Regions from separate parts of the Homo sapiens genome. Here region 2 is linked to region 1. Evidence: fine-mapped expression QTL. A gene starts in region 1. The other region holds a variant in brackets. All regions are shown on one strand. Distances are between the middles of the regions. Region 1 holds the start of STARD10 (StAR related lipid transfer domain containing 10). Region 2 overlaps ARAP1 (ArfGAP with RhoGAP domain, ankyrin repeat and PH domain 1).

Region 1 (8,357 bases):
CGATTCTCCTGCCTCAGCCTCCTAAGTAGCTGGGATTACAGGTGTGCACCACCATGCCTGACTAATTTTTGTATTTTTGGTAGAGACAAGTTTTCGCCATGTTGGCCAGGCTGGTCTCGAACTCCTGGCCTCGAGTGATCCCCATGCCTTGGCCTCTGAAAGTGTTGGGATTACAAGCGTGAGCCACTGCACCCGGCCTATTAATACAATTTTGTAAACCAAAAAGTACCTGAGACAGGTCTCTATCAGTTTAGAGATTTATTTTACCATGGTTGAGGACAAACCTGGGAAAGAGACAACAGCCACAGTAGAATCTGTGGCCCATACTTTTTTTCCAAAGAGGAGTTTGAGACCAGGTGGGGTGGTTCACGCCTGTAATCCCAGCACTTTGGGAGGCAAGGCAGGAGGATCCCTTGAACTCAAGAGTTTGAGACCAGCCTGGGCAACATGGCGTAACCCTGTCTCTACAAAAATCACAAAAAATTAGGCTGGGCGCGGTGGCTCACACCTGCAATTCCAGCACTTTGGGAGGCCAAGGCAGGGGGATCACCTGAGGTCAGGAGTTTGAGACCAGCCTGGCCACCATGGTGAAACCCCATCTCTACTAAAAATACAAAAATTAGGCCAGGCATGATGGCTCACGCCTGTAATCCCAGCACTTTGGGAGGCCGAGGTGGGTGGATCATGAGATCGGGAGTTCGTGACCAGCCTGACCAACAGCGTGAAACCTCGTCTCTAAAAAAATACAAAAAAAAAAATTGCTGGGCATGGTGGTGAGCACCTGTAATCCCAGCTACTCAGGAGGCTGAGGCGGGAGAATCTCTTGAACCCAGGAGGCAGAGGTTGCAGTGAGCCAAGATCACGACACTGCACTCCAGCCTGAGCGACAGAGCAAGACTCCTTCTCAAAAAAAAAAAAAAAATTAGCTGGGCGTGTTGGTGTGCGCCTGTAATCTCAGCTACTTGGGAGGCTGAAGTAGAAGAATCCCTTGAACCTGGCAGGCGGAGGTTGCAGTGAGCCAAGATCGTTGCAGTGAGCCACTGCACTCCAGCCAGGGTGACAGAATAAGACTCCATCTAAAAAAAAAAAAAAAAAAGGCAAAACATAATTAAAGTGAGAATTAAAAAAAAATTAGCCAGGTGTAGTGGTGTGTGCCTATAAACACAGCTACTCAGGAGGTTGAGGTGGGAGAATAGATTGAGCCCAGGAGGTCCAGGCTGCAGTGAACAATGGTCTTGCCTCCAGCCTGGGTGACAGAATGAGACCCTGTCTCAAAAAAACAAAAACAAGGCCGGGCACAGTGGCTCACACCTGTAATCCCAGCACTTTGGGAGGCCGAGGTGGGCGGATCACACGGTCAGGAGATCGAGACCATCCTGGCTAACACGGTGAAACCCCATCTCTACTAAAAAAATACAAAAAAAAAAATTAGCCCGGCGTGGTGGCGGGTGCCTGTAGACCCAGCTACTCAGGAGGCTGAGGCAGGAGAATGGCATGAACCCGGGAGGCGGAGCTGGCAGTGAGCCCCAGATCATGCCACTGCACTCCAGCCTAGATGACAGAGCAAGTCTCCGTCTCAAAAAAAAAAACAAAAAACAAAAAAAAAACCACAAACGAACAGCCCCTGCCCTCCCCCCAAAAAAGACAAACTGCATCTCACACACAGGTGACCCCTGTGAATACAGTCTCTGAGGAGTGATGGAAGAGGAAGCCCTGTGAGAGGTGCAGACTGCTACCCTCTAGAACACCAGGATGCCTAAATAGTAGAGGGCAGTTTCATTAGCGACATCAGTTTGCAAACTGAAAAGAGACACTCTCCTGTAGGTACCAAAGGTGCTCTCTCTTTGTATAGGGAAAAGGCAGGCTGGTTGTTTTTTGTTTTTGTTTTTTGAGACGGAGTCTCGCTCAGTCGCCCAGGCTGGAATGCAGTGGTGCGATCTCGGCTCACTGCAACCTCCACCTCCCAGGTTCATGCCATTCTCCTGCCTCAGCCTCCCGAGTAGCTGGGACTACAGGCGCCCGCCACCACACCCAGCTAATTTTTTTGTATTTTTAGTAGAGACGGGGTTTCACCATGTTAGCCAGGATGGTCTCAATCTTCTGACCTCGTGATCCGCCCGTCTTGGCCTCCCAAAGTGCTGGGATTACAGGCGTGAGCCACCACTCCCGGCCTAGGCTGGTTTATGACTCACAGGGTCTGTATTTCACAATAATCATACATATTCAGCAGGTTTTGGGGAAAAGCTATACATATTTATGAGGGGATGTGAGTGCATGCACAATGGGTAAACACCTGTAACATATGTTCCATGTTCACTTTGGGATGGGGTTTTTGCGTTAAAGTGAGGTGGAATTTGGTTCTTTGCATCATAAGGTGGACTATAGGACACAAACACAGTTTGCGTGCAGTCTCTATGAGCTTGCTGAAACTGGCCTGAGGTCTGCAGTTACTTATCAGGAAAGAATGTTTGTAAGGCCTGTCCTCTGTCGATCAGCGTTGTAGTGGTCTGAGTTGTAAATCTCAGTAAAGAAGAGTCTGACAATTTGCATGATAGCTCCTATTGCTAGGGGTTTAGTAAGAGTGTGGTTTTTCTGGCAGCAGTAGAAATTTAAGAAGTTGCCATGCCAGCTGACAGCTGAGCCCTGAGGTAGGCAACGTTTGTTTCCTTAACCTTAACCTTAAGGTCCATCGTAGTTGATAAAAAGGCATCTGGCCAGGCCTGATGGCTCACGCCTATAATCCCAGCACTTTGGGAGGGTGAGGCGGGAGGCCAGCAGTTCTGGGGCCACTGCACTCCAGCCTGACAGACAGAGACCCTGTCTCAAAAAATAAATAAATAAAAAAGATAAAGGGGCATTTGTCTTGATCGCTCAGATCACACAACTAATAAGTAGCATTCTTTCTAAAAGCCGCAACAATGCTACTCCTCTCTTATAAGAGCTACTGTGTAACTCCTGCCCAACTCAAACCCACAGGCCCAGGCTCAGAACACTTGGCTCCATTGCTTCACTGTTTCCCTGCTAGCACGAACCCCCCAAACTCCATCTCCCAACATGCCGCGGGCCCCCTTTCTGTCAGCCTGACTCTTGAGCTCCTGAGAAATGTAGTTTTTCCAGCGGCCCAGCCCCAGAAAGGTCCTAGCCAAGAACTACAGTTCCCATGTGGCAATGCGCGCGCCATTCCGGTGGAATTCACCGCGGTCTCCAGTTTGCCATGATGGATGCCAGAACCTGCACGTGGGGCTTGGTGACGCGATGACTGAGATGCTGGAGTCCCCGGTCAGAAGGACGATGCCGAGCGCGCCGTATTTTCTCCTGCCTCTCCTCAGATCGCCGCCGTTGTTGGGCTGTGGAGACGTCTCAACCAAAGTGGAGCCGACAGAGGCCCCGGGAGCCGTGGTGACAGAGCGGCCACAACCACTAGGGGGCGGGAGGCAGAGCGGCCCCTAGTCCGCCCCTAGTCCGGGACCTCTGGGCGGTCCCGGGCGGGAAGCGCACGCGCAAACGCGGGGCTTCGCGGCCGCTGTAAACACCAAAGAGCGCCTGCGCAAGCCGAGAGTCTCGGGATCGACACGTGGGGGCGCCTGAGCGAAGATAACCGTAATAAATAGTAACCTAACGGTCCAGTCATCGTTCTGTGGTCCTTTCTTTTATGATTCACAAGGAATGACCCTCTTCATCGCCTCTCCTAATTCAGTCCTCACAACAGTCCTTTTACAAATGGGACAACAGGTTAGAGGAAGTCAGGCAGATTTCCAGCATCATAGAGAGTAAAGGACCAGGGAAGGATCAGGATTCAAGGACTGCACCCAGGCTCTGCTTCCAGCTTGCTGTGTGACTTTGGGTAATTTTGTTCCCTTAGGGAACTGAGCTTTCTCATTTGTAAATGCAAACAGGCTGTTGGGAGGATCAAATGAGATCCAGGGGTGAAAACAGCTTAGTTTACTTTCAGGAATTTACCCACGCGGTATATAAAGGCAAAATATTATTATAGTCAGGTGATTGTAGATTGAGGAACCCATTTCCTCATTCTGCAAATTGCAAACCTGAGGGCCCAAAGAGGGACAGGGGCTTGCCCCAGGTCTCAGCAGGCTGTGAGCAAGAGCTAAAGCCTAATCCTCCTGCCTTTGGGCCTGGAGCCCTTCCTTGTACCCCAGGGGTCAGTGTCTTTGTTGGATACAGGCTTAGATTGACTGACTGTACCCTGAGAACCTAGGGGAGTCCCTGTTCCCAATTCTTCTCCTACCCCCACCTTGGCCTGATGGAGGAAGACCCTGCTGTGTTGAGATGAGCACCAGAGCCAAGAAGCTGAGGAGGATCTGGAGAATTCTGGAGGAAGAGGAGAGTGTTGCTGGAGCTGTACAGACCCTGCTTCTCAGGTCAGTGGCCCAAGTAAGGGAAAGAACCCAGGTGTGACAGATGAGGGGGCAGCACTAAGGGGACAGACTCTGAATGGAAAGGAGTGGGAAGGCAGTGGACACTGTTTCTGAGCTTGGGAGGAATTGGGTACTCAGGTAACTCCATCTGGGGGCAGTGGAGCTGGAGGTGATACCTGGGCTGGCCTGGCTGATGAGAAGGGGAAGTGATGCGCATTGAGCTGAGGTCTAGGAGCCACTCCCCAGCCAGGTGAAGCGAGGTGGCACCTAGGCACACCATGGCACCTGCAGGATCATGCAGCTAACCCCAGGGAAGGGGACTTTTCTCTGACCCTTGGAGCGGTGGAGCTGGGCTGTATGCAGCTGATTCTCTCTAGAGTGCTCTTAGAGGTTTTGGGGGTAGGTTGGGGGAAGGGCTGGGAGACCCTGAGGTCTCATTACAGATTGGGCCTCCCCAGGCAAGTCATGAAAGGCAGGTATATGTAGAAATAGAAATCCAAGATCCTTCAAGATATCCCAGATAGGCCAGGCACGGTGGCTCACGCCTGTAATCTCAGCACTTTGGGAGGCTGAGGCGAGCGGATCACCTGAGGTTGGGGGTTGAGATCAGCCTGACCAAAGTGGAGAAACTCCATCTCTACTAAAAATACAAAAAAAAAAATTAACCGGGCGTTGTGGCGGGCACCTGTAGTCCCAGCTACTCGGGAGGCTGGGGCAGGAGAATGGCGTGAACCCGGGAGACGGAGCTTGCGGTGAGCCGAGATGGCGCCACTGTACTCCAGCCTGGCTGACAGAGTAAGACTCTGTCTCAAAAAAAAAAAAAAAAAAAAAAAAAATTAGCCAGGTGTGGTGGTGTATGCCGGTAGTCCCAGCTACTCGGGAGGCTGAGGCAGAAGAATCGCTTGAACCCAGGAGGCGGAGGTTGTCGTGGGCCGAGATGGTGCCATTGCACTCCAGCCTGGGCAACAAGAACGAAACTCCGTCTCAAAACAAAACAAAACAAAACAAAACACAACAACAAAAAGGTATCCAAGATAATTCAATGGAATTATCTGGAGGTGGATCTTGGATTCACCTCCAAGCATTTAATTATCTGGGCCTTCACTTATCATTTCTGTTTTTCAGCCAGAGAAACTGAGGCTAAAGAAGGAAAAGGACCTCTTTTTTTTTTTTTGAGACGGAATTTCACTCTTGTTGCCCAGGCTGGAGTGCAAGGGTGCGATCTTGGCTCACTGCAACCTCCGCCTCCTGGGTTTAAGCAATTCTCCTGCCTCAGCCTGCCAAGTAGCTGGGATTACAGGTGCCCACTACCATGCCTGGCTAATTTTTTGTATTTTTAGTAGAGACACGGTTTCACCATGTTGGCCAGGCTGGTCTCAAACTCCTGACCTCAGGTGATCCATTCGCGGCCTCCCAAAGTGCTGGGATTATGGGCATGAGTCACCACGCCCGGCCAGAAAAGGACTCTATTAAGGACACACAAGGAGTTGGGGTAGAACTGGACTACGACAGGGATCTTTCCATTACATGGCAGTAGTCAAACATCTTCATCAAACATTTATTTAGTGTCTAATGTATACTCCGAGAAGGACTACCTTGGGGTAGCAAATAGAAGCCAGGATTGCCCTCAGACCTGGCTTTTAACCAGCCCTCCCAGTGATTTAAGACTGTGACCCCAGGTGAGTCCCTGCCCCTCTCTGAGCCTCAAATTGTCTGTAAAGTGGGGATGCTAAGCCTTGGGACTGTCTCAATGTTTACCTATAAATTAAATGAGTTAAGACCTGTTATCAAGGTTTACCTATAAATTAAATGAGTTAAGACCTGTTAAGTGCATAGACCAGCACCAGGCCCGTGGTAAGCATTCAGTAACTGTTAGCCACTGTTGTTACTTGTGAACACAGGTCGAGGCAGGCCGCAGATGGGGTTCTCCAAAAGTCAATGCAGGGGCAGAGAAGCAGCAGCCCCAGGTCTGACCATCTCTAGATACCTCCACACCCTGCCCTGGGTGCCTGCATTTCTGAAAGTCAAGGGAGGACCCATGTCCCCATCTCCTCCTCCAGTTCTGGGAAGCTGGCAGGGGAGAAATGTCTCGAGTGTTTACACCTGCACATGCACATGATTCTCTTCCCCACAACCTGAGGCCAAGAGTGAAGATGGTTTTTACTCAAAGCTACACATTACAGCCCTGGACAGTCAGACCAGAACAAGATCCTGGGCTCTTTCTGGCCCTTTCAGGGTGTGGGGTTGTGCATGAGCTTCCTCCCTGCATGGCAGAAGTCCATGAATGCTAACAGCAGGTTCTTGGTCCTCGTTTCCCCTCATGGAGCAGGGGCTGGGGGAAGAGGGGCGCCTGGGTGGGAGACAGGGCCTGACATCAGATACCCCCCCGGCCCACCTTGTTAGTAGTTGGAGGCCTGGCCCTGTGCTCACTTTAGCTCTGTTTCAAGCTTCCCTAATGGAAGTCTGGTTCAAACTCCTTATTTATAGAGGAGGAAAGAGAATCCCAGAGAGGCCAGAACTCACTGAGAGCCCCACGGCGAGGTAAGCGTGAGTCTGGTCCAGAACTCAAGCCTCCTGACTTCAGGTGAGGGCTCTGCCCACAGCCACATGGGAGGGGGCAGGGCTTGATTCCACCTCTCCTCCCCCCACTACCCTCATAGTCATGCTTGGAGCCAGCTCCCAATGTAGCCACCTGGGTGGGCTGTGGTTTGCAGGGAGGGTTGGGAAGATGGAGAGGTAAGGGAAGGAGAGTACAGGGCCCAGTCGGGAGAAACCCAGGGCCGGTCTGGGGCGAGTGGGGCCGAGAGCTCTCCTTGGTGTGCGTGTGGCTGCTGCAGGATTGTGGGGCCTTCATCAGTCTGAGGCAGCAGAGGATGCAGATCCTGTGGGAGCACATTCCTGGAGGAGGGGAGCAAAGCAGGCTCAGAGGAGTGAGTCACGGAGCCCAAGCCCTAAATTTAGAAGGTGCTGAAAGAGGCAGTCTTCCCCCGGGAAGCCTGTGGAGATACCTGCTGACCCAGAACACCAGGGACTCACGGCAGGGAGCAGTGGTTGGCAGGAGTCCCCAGATAGCAGTGCCCATGGAAGCTGAGCCTGCTGCAGGCCTGTTCCAGGTGTGGGTTTGGAACCTAGGGTGAACCTTGACCCAGGGCAGAGCCTTCAGCCCCATTCTCAGACAGAGCCCCTAGAGAATTCCACCCACACCAGTCCTCACGCGGTCCTGGGAGCCAGCCCCTGGAATGTGGACCTCTCAGTGCCATGCTGCCCTCTGGCTAGACATGGCCAGACCCCCTGTGCCTCACTGCTGTCCCAGCATGCAGCTGTCAGACATTGAGGAGGGGCTGTGTGGGTGCAAGGAGCAAATGCCATTGACACCAGGCCTTTCGCAGCTCTGCTTGGATTGGGGGTGAGGGAGGGGGACAAGATGTCATTTCAGCTACCTCTCTTCCCTCTCAACCCTCCAGGCTCTAGGTTAACCCCACTCAGGAGAAAGAAATCATTGCCTCCAGACTGAGGAACAAAGATGTAGGACAGAGGCCAGGCCTCGGAGACAGATGCCAGACCTGGCGGAAGGAAGCTCAGGAACTGAGAACTGATAGTAGCTGTGGCAGTTATTGAGCACTCACTGTGTGCCAGGCACTGTGCTAAGCACTCCACGGGATTAACTCACTTCATCCTCATTGTCATGACAGAAATTCTATTAGTCCACCCAACTTAGATGGAACAACTGAGGCCAGACACAATGGCTCACACCTATAATCCCAGCACTTTGGGAGGCCAAGGCAGGAGGATTGCTTGAGGCCAGAAGTTCGAGACCAGCCTGGGGAGACCCCATCTCTACAAAAAATTACAAAGTTAGCTGGGCGTGGCAGTGCACACCTGTGGTCCCAGCTACTCAGGAGGCTGACGAGAGAGGACCACTTGAGTCCCAGATTTCAAGGCTGTAGTGTGCTATGATTGCACCACTGTACTCCAGTCTGG
Region 2 (8,298 bases), 62 kb after region 1:
GCCCGGCCCTCAGTTTGTGTTTTGAGAGGCCGTGAAGAGTGGTTAAAAGTGGATGGCCAAAGGCTGGTGGCTCACGCCTGTAATCCCAGCACTTTGGGAGGCAGAGGCAGGTAGATCACTTGAGCCCAGGAGCTCAAGACCAGCCTGGGCAACATGGCAAAACCCCATCTCTACAAAAAAATGGAAAAATTAGCCGGGCGTGGTGGTGCAAGCCTGTAGTCCCAGGTACTTGGGAGGCTGACGTGGGATAATTGCTTGGGCCCAAGAGGCAGAGGTTGCGGTGAGCAGAGATTGTGCCACTGCACTCCAGCCTGGGTGACAGAGCGAGACCCTGTCTAAAAAAAAAAGTTGAGAGCTACAGTCTCCAGTATGAATAGAGTGTAAGCCACAATGCAATTTAAACAGTCCAAGTGAAATTAATGTTAATAATATATTTCATCATGTAAACAATAGGGAAAATTATTGAGATATTTTGCATTCTTTTTTTTTTTTTTTGTGCTCAGTCTTCAAAATCCACTGTGTTCAAAATCTAGCACATCATATTCCAGGGACCACATTTCAAATGTCCAACAGCCACGTGTGGCTACTGCTGGCTGCTATTGGACAGCACAGGGCTAGACTATATTCATACTGCCTCCTTCTTAGGTGTGTGGCTTTGGAAAGTTGTTTAACCTCCCTTTATCTCAGTTTCTTCACCTTAAAACAGGGATAGCAATCATATGTATCTCCTGGGGCTGCTGTGAGGCTTTAATGAGTTAATATAAAGTACTTGGATACCTGGCATGCAGTAAGCACTGTTTATGTGGTCTCTTTTTCTTGTTTCAAATTGTCGTTTGAGTAGCACTGCCATTTTTGCCAATGCTTTCATCTGAAGTGCTAGCTACTTAAAGGTTGTTTTTTAAGTATTGACTTTTGGGCTGGGTGCAGTGGCTTATGCCTATAATCTTAAGCACTTTGGGAGGTCAAAGTGGGAGGATTGCTTGAGGCCAAGAGTTTGAGACCAGCCTGGGCAACATAACGAGACCCTGTCTTTACAAAAAATAACAAAATTAGCTGGGCACAGTGGCATGCACTTGTAGTTCCAGCTACTCAGGAGGCTGAGGCAGGAAGATTGCTTGAGCCTGGGAGTTGGAAGTTGCAGTAAGCTATGATTGCACTACTACACTCCAGCCTGGGCAACAGAGCAAGACCCTGTCTCAAAAATAAAATAAGGCAAGGTGTGGTGGCTCACACCTGTACTTCTAGCAACTGGGGGGGCTGAGGTGGGTGGATCACTTGAGGTCAGGAGTTCGAGACCAGCCTGGCCAACATGGCAAAACCACGTCTCTACTAAAAATACAAAAATTAGCTGGGCATGGTGATACGCACCTGTAGTCCCAGCTACTCGGGAGGCTGAGACAAGAGAATCGTGCTTGAACTTGGGAGGTGGAGGCTGCAGTGAGCCAAGATTGCGCTACTGCACTCCAGCTGGGGCAACGGAGTTAGACTCTGTCTCAAAATAAATAAACTAAAATAAAATATTTAAAAAATGTATACCTGTTTTAGCCCTATCCTAGGCAGTGATAATCATGGAGTTTGCTTAAGATAAATACCTGTTTATGTGTTTGTAAGATGTAAAATGTTCATGAATACCTACTGAAGCCATTATGCAGAGCACAGCAGTTTTGAAGTTAACCCTAGTGTTGGCAGACCTGACTGTTCCAGGTCCTGGGGAGGGAGACCTGTCCATGCCACTCCACTGGTCCCTAGCCCCACAGAGCTCCGGCTGTCTGCATAGCAAGGGTGGTGGCCTGTCAGGAATATCCTATTCTTTCTCCTCCTGCCTGGAAGCATCCCCTTTTGGTCTGTTTTCCTCAACCTCCCCTACATATTTAGGGGCAGGGCCCTGGGGTCTCATGCCCCTGACTCAGTTACCCTACTTGTGCCCTCAGGCCACTTCATGGTCCCCAGGCTTAGTGGAGAGGGTCCTGTGTCCCTGGGTCCTCTAAGGTCCCCCACCTCTCCTGACAGGCTCTGTGTCAGGGAGACCTCTTTAGTCGCAGGGCTGCATTGTCCCTTCCTCACCCTTCCTGGGGCTGTCCCTTCCACAGTCTGCCCCTACACACATCCCAGCACTGGTCTTGCAGGGCCAGAGAGTGGGGAAGTCCTGACTCCTCTTTACCACCTGTGCAGCCCCCACATCTGGACAGGCCTGTCTGTCTGCCTTCTCCCTCCAGGAAGGCCTTCCTCTGGTCTGACTTCTGTTGCCAGTTTCCATGAGCATGAGGTTCCCCGAATCCTTTCCTCTTCCCTCTTCCTTCTCTTCCTCTTCTTCCACCTCTTCCCCATCTCTTCTTTTTTCTTTTCTTTTTTTTGAGACAGGGTCTGGCTCTGTTTCCCAGGCTGGAGTGTAGTGGCTCAATCACAGCTCACTGCAGCCTCCACCTCCTGGGCTCAAGTGATTCTCCCACCTCAGCCTCCTGAGTTCCTGGGACTACAGGCACACACTACCACACCTGGATAATTTTTGTATTTTTGTTGTACAGATGGGGTCTTCTTATGTTGCCCAGGCTGGTTTTGAACTCCTGGACTCGAATCCACCTGCCTCCCAAAGTGCTGGGATTACAGGCGTGAGCTACTGTGCCTGGCCCCCATTTCTTCTTTCCTTTTCCCTGTCCCTCTCCCTCTTCCCCTCTCCTTCTCTGGCATCTCATAGTGGCCTTGCCTCACGGGCTTTCTCCTCCATCCCTGTCCTTGCAGCTCCCGCCTCAGGCCGAGATGAGGAGCCCTTCAGAATAGCTGCTGTCTCTGGGAGGACCCGGGCGTCCTTGGCAGCCCAGCTGGTGAGTCAGGAGGTGGAGCGGTGGGAACAGGGCTGGCTGTGGCACGCTAGGCCTTAACATTGAGGTCGGGGAAGGCTTGATGGAGGCTGACACCTGATAGCCCATTTTCCATTTTGAGAACTGAGCTTGAGAGGCAGAGGGTGAGGCCCAGAGAGCTTGCTACGAGCCTCCCAGCAGGCCTTGGAACCTTGGAACAGGGTGGGGGTACGAGACAGAGGGACAAGGCAGGGGCCAGCAGGCTGAATTGCAGGTCTGTGTTTATGTATCTCCTCACTGGATTCCCCTCCCTGCCTGGCAAGTTTTGTTCCCTTTCTCATTCTCAGGCTCTATTCATGGTTATCACATTCCCTTTTAATTTTTATTTACTTTTTGGAAAATGATACAAAATTTAAAAGATACAGAAGGGTATAGTGTCTCCTGTCTTCCCAGCTGTCAATTCCCCTCCCCAAACTCAGTTTTATATATATCCGTCCAGTTTTCTGTGTTTATATTTGCATATATATATAACATATGTATATTTTTTTCTTTTTCTTTAACCGAGATGTTTACATAACACTGTTCTGCATCTTGCTTTTCCACTTAACACATCTCTAATATCATTTTATATGAACTTTAGAATCTGCTGGTCTCAACAAATTCCAGCTGGTAATTTTAGTTGGGATGGTGTTAAAGTTTTAGCTTAACCCTGGAGGAACTGACATCTTTATATGTTGAAGTGAAAAGTCTCCCTCTCCTCAGAGGTGGATTTCCAGGGAAGCTGGAGTTTGAGGTGCAGGGCTCCTTCCAGGATCTAAAGAGGGTCCTGAACAGTGTGTGCATGTGGTCATGTGTTTTTGTGAATTTTGCAAAAGTGAGATACTCTTAAGGAGAATGTGTTAGTCTGTTTTGTATTGCAATCAAGGAATACCCTGAGTAATTTATAAAGAAAAGAGGTGTATTTGGCTCAGGGCTCTGCAGGCTGTATAAGCATGGCACCAGCATCTGCTCAGCTTCTGGTGAGGCCTCAGGAAGCTTTTAGTCAGGGCAGAAGGCAAAGCGGGAGCAGGCATGTCACATGGTGAGGGAGGAAGCAAGAGAGAAGCCGGGCTCTTTTAACCAGCTAGCTCTTACATGAACAAATAGAGTGATAACTCACTTGTTACCATGGGGAGGGCACCAAGCTATTCATGAGGGATCTGTCCCCGTGACCCCAGACACCTCCCACTAGGTCCACCTCCAACATTGGGGGTCACATTTCAACATGAAATTTGGAGGGGACAAACATCCAAACCATATCAGAGGGCACTTAAATTGTGTAAGCTTCAGGTCCCATGAACTTCAGGCCCTGTGAACTCTGCATCTTCCACTGTTCCCTCCTGTCCCTTCAGGCCTTAGTTTTCGTCCTAGGAGGAAGCTGATAACTGTTGTCACCTTGCCCTCATGTGTCTTTTCAGAGATACTTTGTTCATTTACCAGTAGCTGCACACTACTCCATGCTCCCCCTTGTTTTTTTCACAGAGAGAGAATGTTACACAAACTGTTCTGCACTTTTCTTTACTCCTTTAACAGTGTATCTTATAGATCATCCCATGTCAATATGTGAGGAGTTTCCTCATTCTTATGGCCGCTCAGTATTCTATTGCACAACTACAACATAATTTAGTTAACTATTCTCCCATTGATGGCCATTTTGGTTATTTCCATTCTTTTGCTATTAAACACAGGCACTGTAGCTAGTAACCTTCTATATATGTCAATTCTGGCAGGTGCCAGTAAAAATGCAGGCTAAGTGCCTATGGGTGGCTGGGTCAGCCATCTGCATCTCTGTTTTTGGGGGAGGCGGGAGGACAAAGTGTCCCCCAGGCTGGAATGCAATGGTGTGATCTCGGCTCACTGCAACCTCCACATCCTGGGTTCAAGCGATTCTCCTGCACCTCAGACTCCTGAGTAGCTGGGATTACAGGTGTCTGCCACTGTGCCTGGCTAACTTTTTGTATTTTTAGTAGAGACGGGATTTTACCATGTTGACCAGACTGGTCTCGAATTCCTGACCTCAAGTGTTGGGATTACAGGTGTGAGCCACCG[C/T]GCCCAGCCCAGACATCTGCATCTCTTAGGGCTTTCATGCCTAGAGGCATTCCACAGCCAGGGAAGGGATGCCCTACCACATCACCAATGCCTGTATTTTCCAACTTTATTGCTCTTTGACAATCTGATAGGTAGAAAGCAGTATTTCAAAATATTTTACATTCATATTTCCTAGTGTGGGGGAGGTTAAGTTCCTTTTCAGATATTTAAGAGCCATTTATATTTTCCTTTTTGTAAATTTTTTCATTCATACTCTTTGCCCATTTTTCTGTTAGATTATTGATCCGTTTCTTATTTCTGCATGCTTTTCAACTTTTAGGAAAATGAGCCCTTTGTGTGGAATATGAGTGGCAGATATCCCCTAGTTTGTTGTTTAGCTCTTGGCTTTGCTTATGGTGCTTTTTACCATGCAAGAGTGCTTGATTTTTGTAGAGTTGAATATTTCAGTCTTTTCTGTGTGCCTTCTGGACTTGTTTCATTTCCAGAAGGCTTTTGCCTCTCTGAAATGATTTTTTTTTTTTTTTTTTAGAGACAGTCTCACTCTGTTGCCCAGGGTGGAGTGCAGTGGTGTGCAGTGGTGTGATCATAGCTCACTGCAGCCTTGAACTCCTAGGCTCAAGCAATTCTCCCACCTCATCCTCACAAGTAGCTGAGACTACAAGTGTGCAGCTGCCTAATTTTTAGGTTTTTTTTTTAGTAGAGACAGAGTCTTGCTGTGTTGCCCAGGCTGGTCTTAAACTCCTGGCCTCAAGCAGTCCTCTTGCTTTAGCCTCCCAAAGTGTTGGGATTACAGGCGTGAGCCACCATACCCAGCCCTAGGATGATTTCGTAAATCCTTTCATTTTTTATTTTTTATTTTTTTTTCTGAAGTGGAGTCTCTCTCTGTTGCCCAGGCTGGAGTGCAGTGATCTCGGCTCACTGTAATCTCCACCTCCTGGGTTCAAGCAATTCTGCCTTAGCCTCCTGAGTAGCTGAGATTACAGGTGCTTGCCACCATGCCCGGCTAATTTTTTGTATTTTTAGTAGAGACAAGGGTTTGCCGTGTTGGCCAAGCTGGTCTCAAACTCCTGACCTCAGGGGATCTGCCTGCCTCAGCATCCCTAAGTGCTGGGATTATAGGTGTGAGCCACCTTGCCCAGCCATGGTTTTTTAAAATACTGAAGTCTTTGATACAGCTGTAATGTTTCTTGTTGTAAAGTGTGAGATAGGGATCCACATTAGTTTTTTTTGAGAGCACTCCACAGCTGTCCCAACAACTTAAGAATCCCTTGTTTCCCCACAAGTTTGAGAGGCTACTTTTAGTGTATCCTAAATTTGTATATGTATTTGGGTCTACTTTTGAACTTTCTGTTCTGTTTAATTGATCTGTCTGTTCATGCACTGTTACCATATACTGTTTTAATCATTGTGGCTTTATAATATGTTTTAACATGTGGTGAGGTTGACTCCTACTCTTTACCCTCCCCGCCCTCCACCCCTGCTTCCAGAATTTTCCTCACTCTTCCTGCTTATTTTTCCACATGAAATTTCAAATCAGCTTCAAAAAAAATTCTGTACATATTTAATTGGATTGTGTACATTTATAAAGTAACTTAGACATCATTAATCTCTTTATGTTGTCTTCTATCCAGAACTTACTGTGCTCTGCCATTTGTCCAGGTCTTCTTTTTGTCCCTCAGTAACACTCCCAATTTTTCTTCCTATCGCTGTTGTTTATCTCTTAGGAAGTTTATTGGTGTTTTCTATTTTGTGATGCTTTTGTAAATGGGGTCTTTCATCCTGGTTTCTACCTGTTTGTTGCTTATAAATGTTGATTTCTGTTATATTAATTTTCGTTTGTTTCTTTTGTTTTTGTTTTTGTTTTTGTTTTGAGACGGAGCCTCACTCTGTTGCCCAGGCTGGGGTGCAGTGGCATGATCTCGGCTCATGGCAACCTCTGCCTCCTGGGTTCAAGCAATTCTCCTGCCTCAGCCTCCTGAGTAGCTGGGACTACAGGCGCATGCCACCATGCCTGGCTAATTTTTTGTATTCTAGTAAAGATGGGGTTTCACTGTATTGCCCAGGCTGGTCTGAAACTCTTGAGCTCAGGCAATCCACCCGCCTCGGCCTCCTAAAGTGCTAGGATTATAGTTGTGCCCGGCCAGTCTGTTATATTAATTTTGAACCCAACTGTCTTACTAAAGTCTTTACTGGTTGTTATAGTTTCTCAGTTGACCTTCTTGGGCTTTCAAACTCAACACTCATATTATTGGCAACAAATGGATAGTTTATCTCTTCCTTTCTGATTTTAAGACCTCTTGTTTATTTTTGTTGTCCAGAGCTTTCAGAGCAATGTGAGGAATAATAATAACAACAGTAAAATGGATATTCTTTTCTCATTTAAGAAAGTATCAATTTATTTCTGTTTTAGTAAGATTTTTGTTTGTGTAAGTAAGCTGGATATTGGGTTTTATCATATGCCTCTTTAGTGTCTGTGGAGATAATCAGATGACTTTTCCCTTTGATCTGCTAATCACCTCTTTTGGTCACCTCTTCATATCACCTCTTGACTCCCACCAGGCCAGGAGCTCTTGATTACAGGGTGCAGGGGTAGAGCCTGAGTCCCCATTGCCTAGTGCCAGGCTATTTTGAAAGAACAAATGGATGAATGGCCTTAGTGATGGGAGGGTTTACCCAATTCCAGGGCCAGGCCCCCAGAGGCCATGTGATGCTGGGTTTACTCACGTCCCACAGCATTTCACTTCCTCCAGGGGCATGGAGGTAGGGGGAGGCTAGTCTCGGCTCCCAGACTGGGCTTGCAGGAGGGACCAGCAGTGGTATCCTTCAATGCTCGCTAAGCCCTTGGCCTGGCCCTCACTGGGAACTGGTGCCTCAGAGGGAATTAGCCCTGCCGTGGGTCTTGCAGAGGGCAGTGGGGAGGAGGTATAAGACACAGCACCAATCATGCCACTGGCCATTCTCACGGCAGTGGCCAAGGCTGTGTGTTGGGGTGTGGGGTGGTACCAACCCCAGAGATCATGGAGGGTTTCCTAGAGAAGAAAACATGAGCTGGATGCTGGGATAGCACAAGGGAAGGGGTGAGGGGGTTCAGGCGGAGAGAAGAGCCTGTGTGTTCAGAGACCTGGCAGTACCTGGCCTTGCTTAGCACATGGAGCACAGGGGAGGAAGCTCCAGGACAGAACTTGAACCTATGGCTTGAGAGAGCCATGCAGGCTGCTGGTGAGGGGACCAATCCTCGGCAGCCCTGCCTCTGACCTGTGCCTGTCTGTCTATTCTAGCTCTGGACAAAGCCCTGCCAGTCAGGCCTCCGCTGGCAGGAACCATGGCAGAGGCTGGGGATGCTGCGCTATCGGTGGCCGAGTGGCTGCGGGCATTGCACCTGGAGCAGTACACGGGGCTCTTTGAGCAGCAT

What was found. PIP is the estimated chance that this variant, and not a neighbour inherited with it, causes the effect.
Region 2: its variant is the best candidate, but not a certain one, in a credible set for the expression of STARD10 in sun-exposed skin (GTEx, PIP 0.53).

What each region holds. Positions count from the first base shown.
Region 1 is chr11:72,788,897-72,797,253 of GRCh38, reverse strand. It overlaps STARD10 (StAR related lipid transfer domain containing 10), which reads left to right and starts at 3,207. Exons shown (of 7, transcript NM_006645.3): 1 at 3,207-4,379. RefSeq lists enhancers at 2,882-3,451, 4,583-5,082.
Region 2 is chr11:72,727,039-72,735,336 of GRCh38, reverse strand. ARAP1 (ArfGAP with RhoGAP domain, ankyrin repeat and PH domain 1) reads left to right here. Exons shown (of 35, transcript NM_001040118.3): 2 at 2,740-2,822; 3 at 8,165-8,298. The coding sequence starts at 8,209. Among named protein-coding and RNA genes, the nearest start is that of ARAP1, 21 kb to the left of the region's middle. RefSeq lists an enhancer at 5,519-5,588. The variant C/T (reference allele first, on the strand shown) is at 4,887.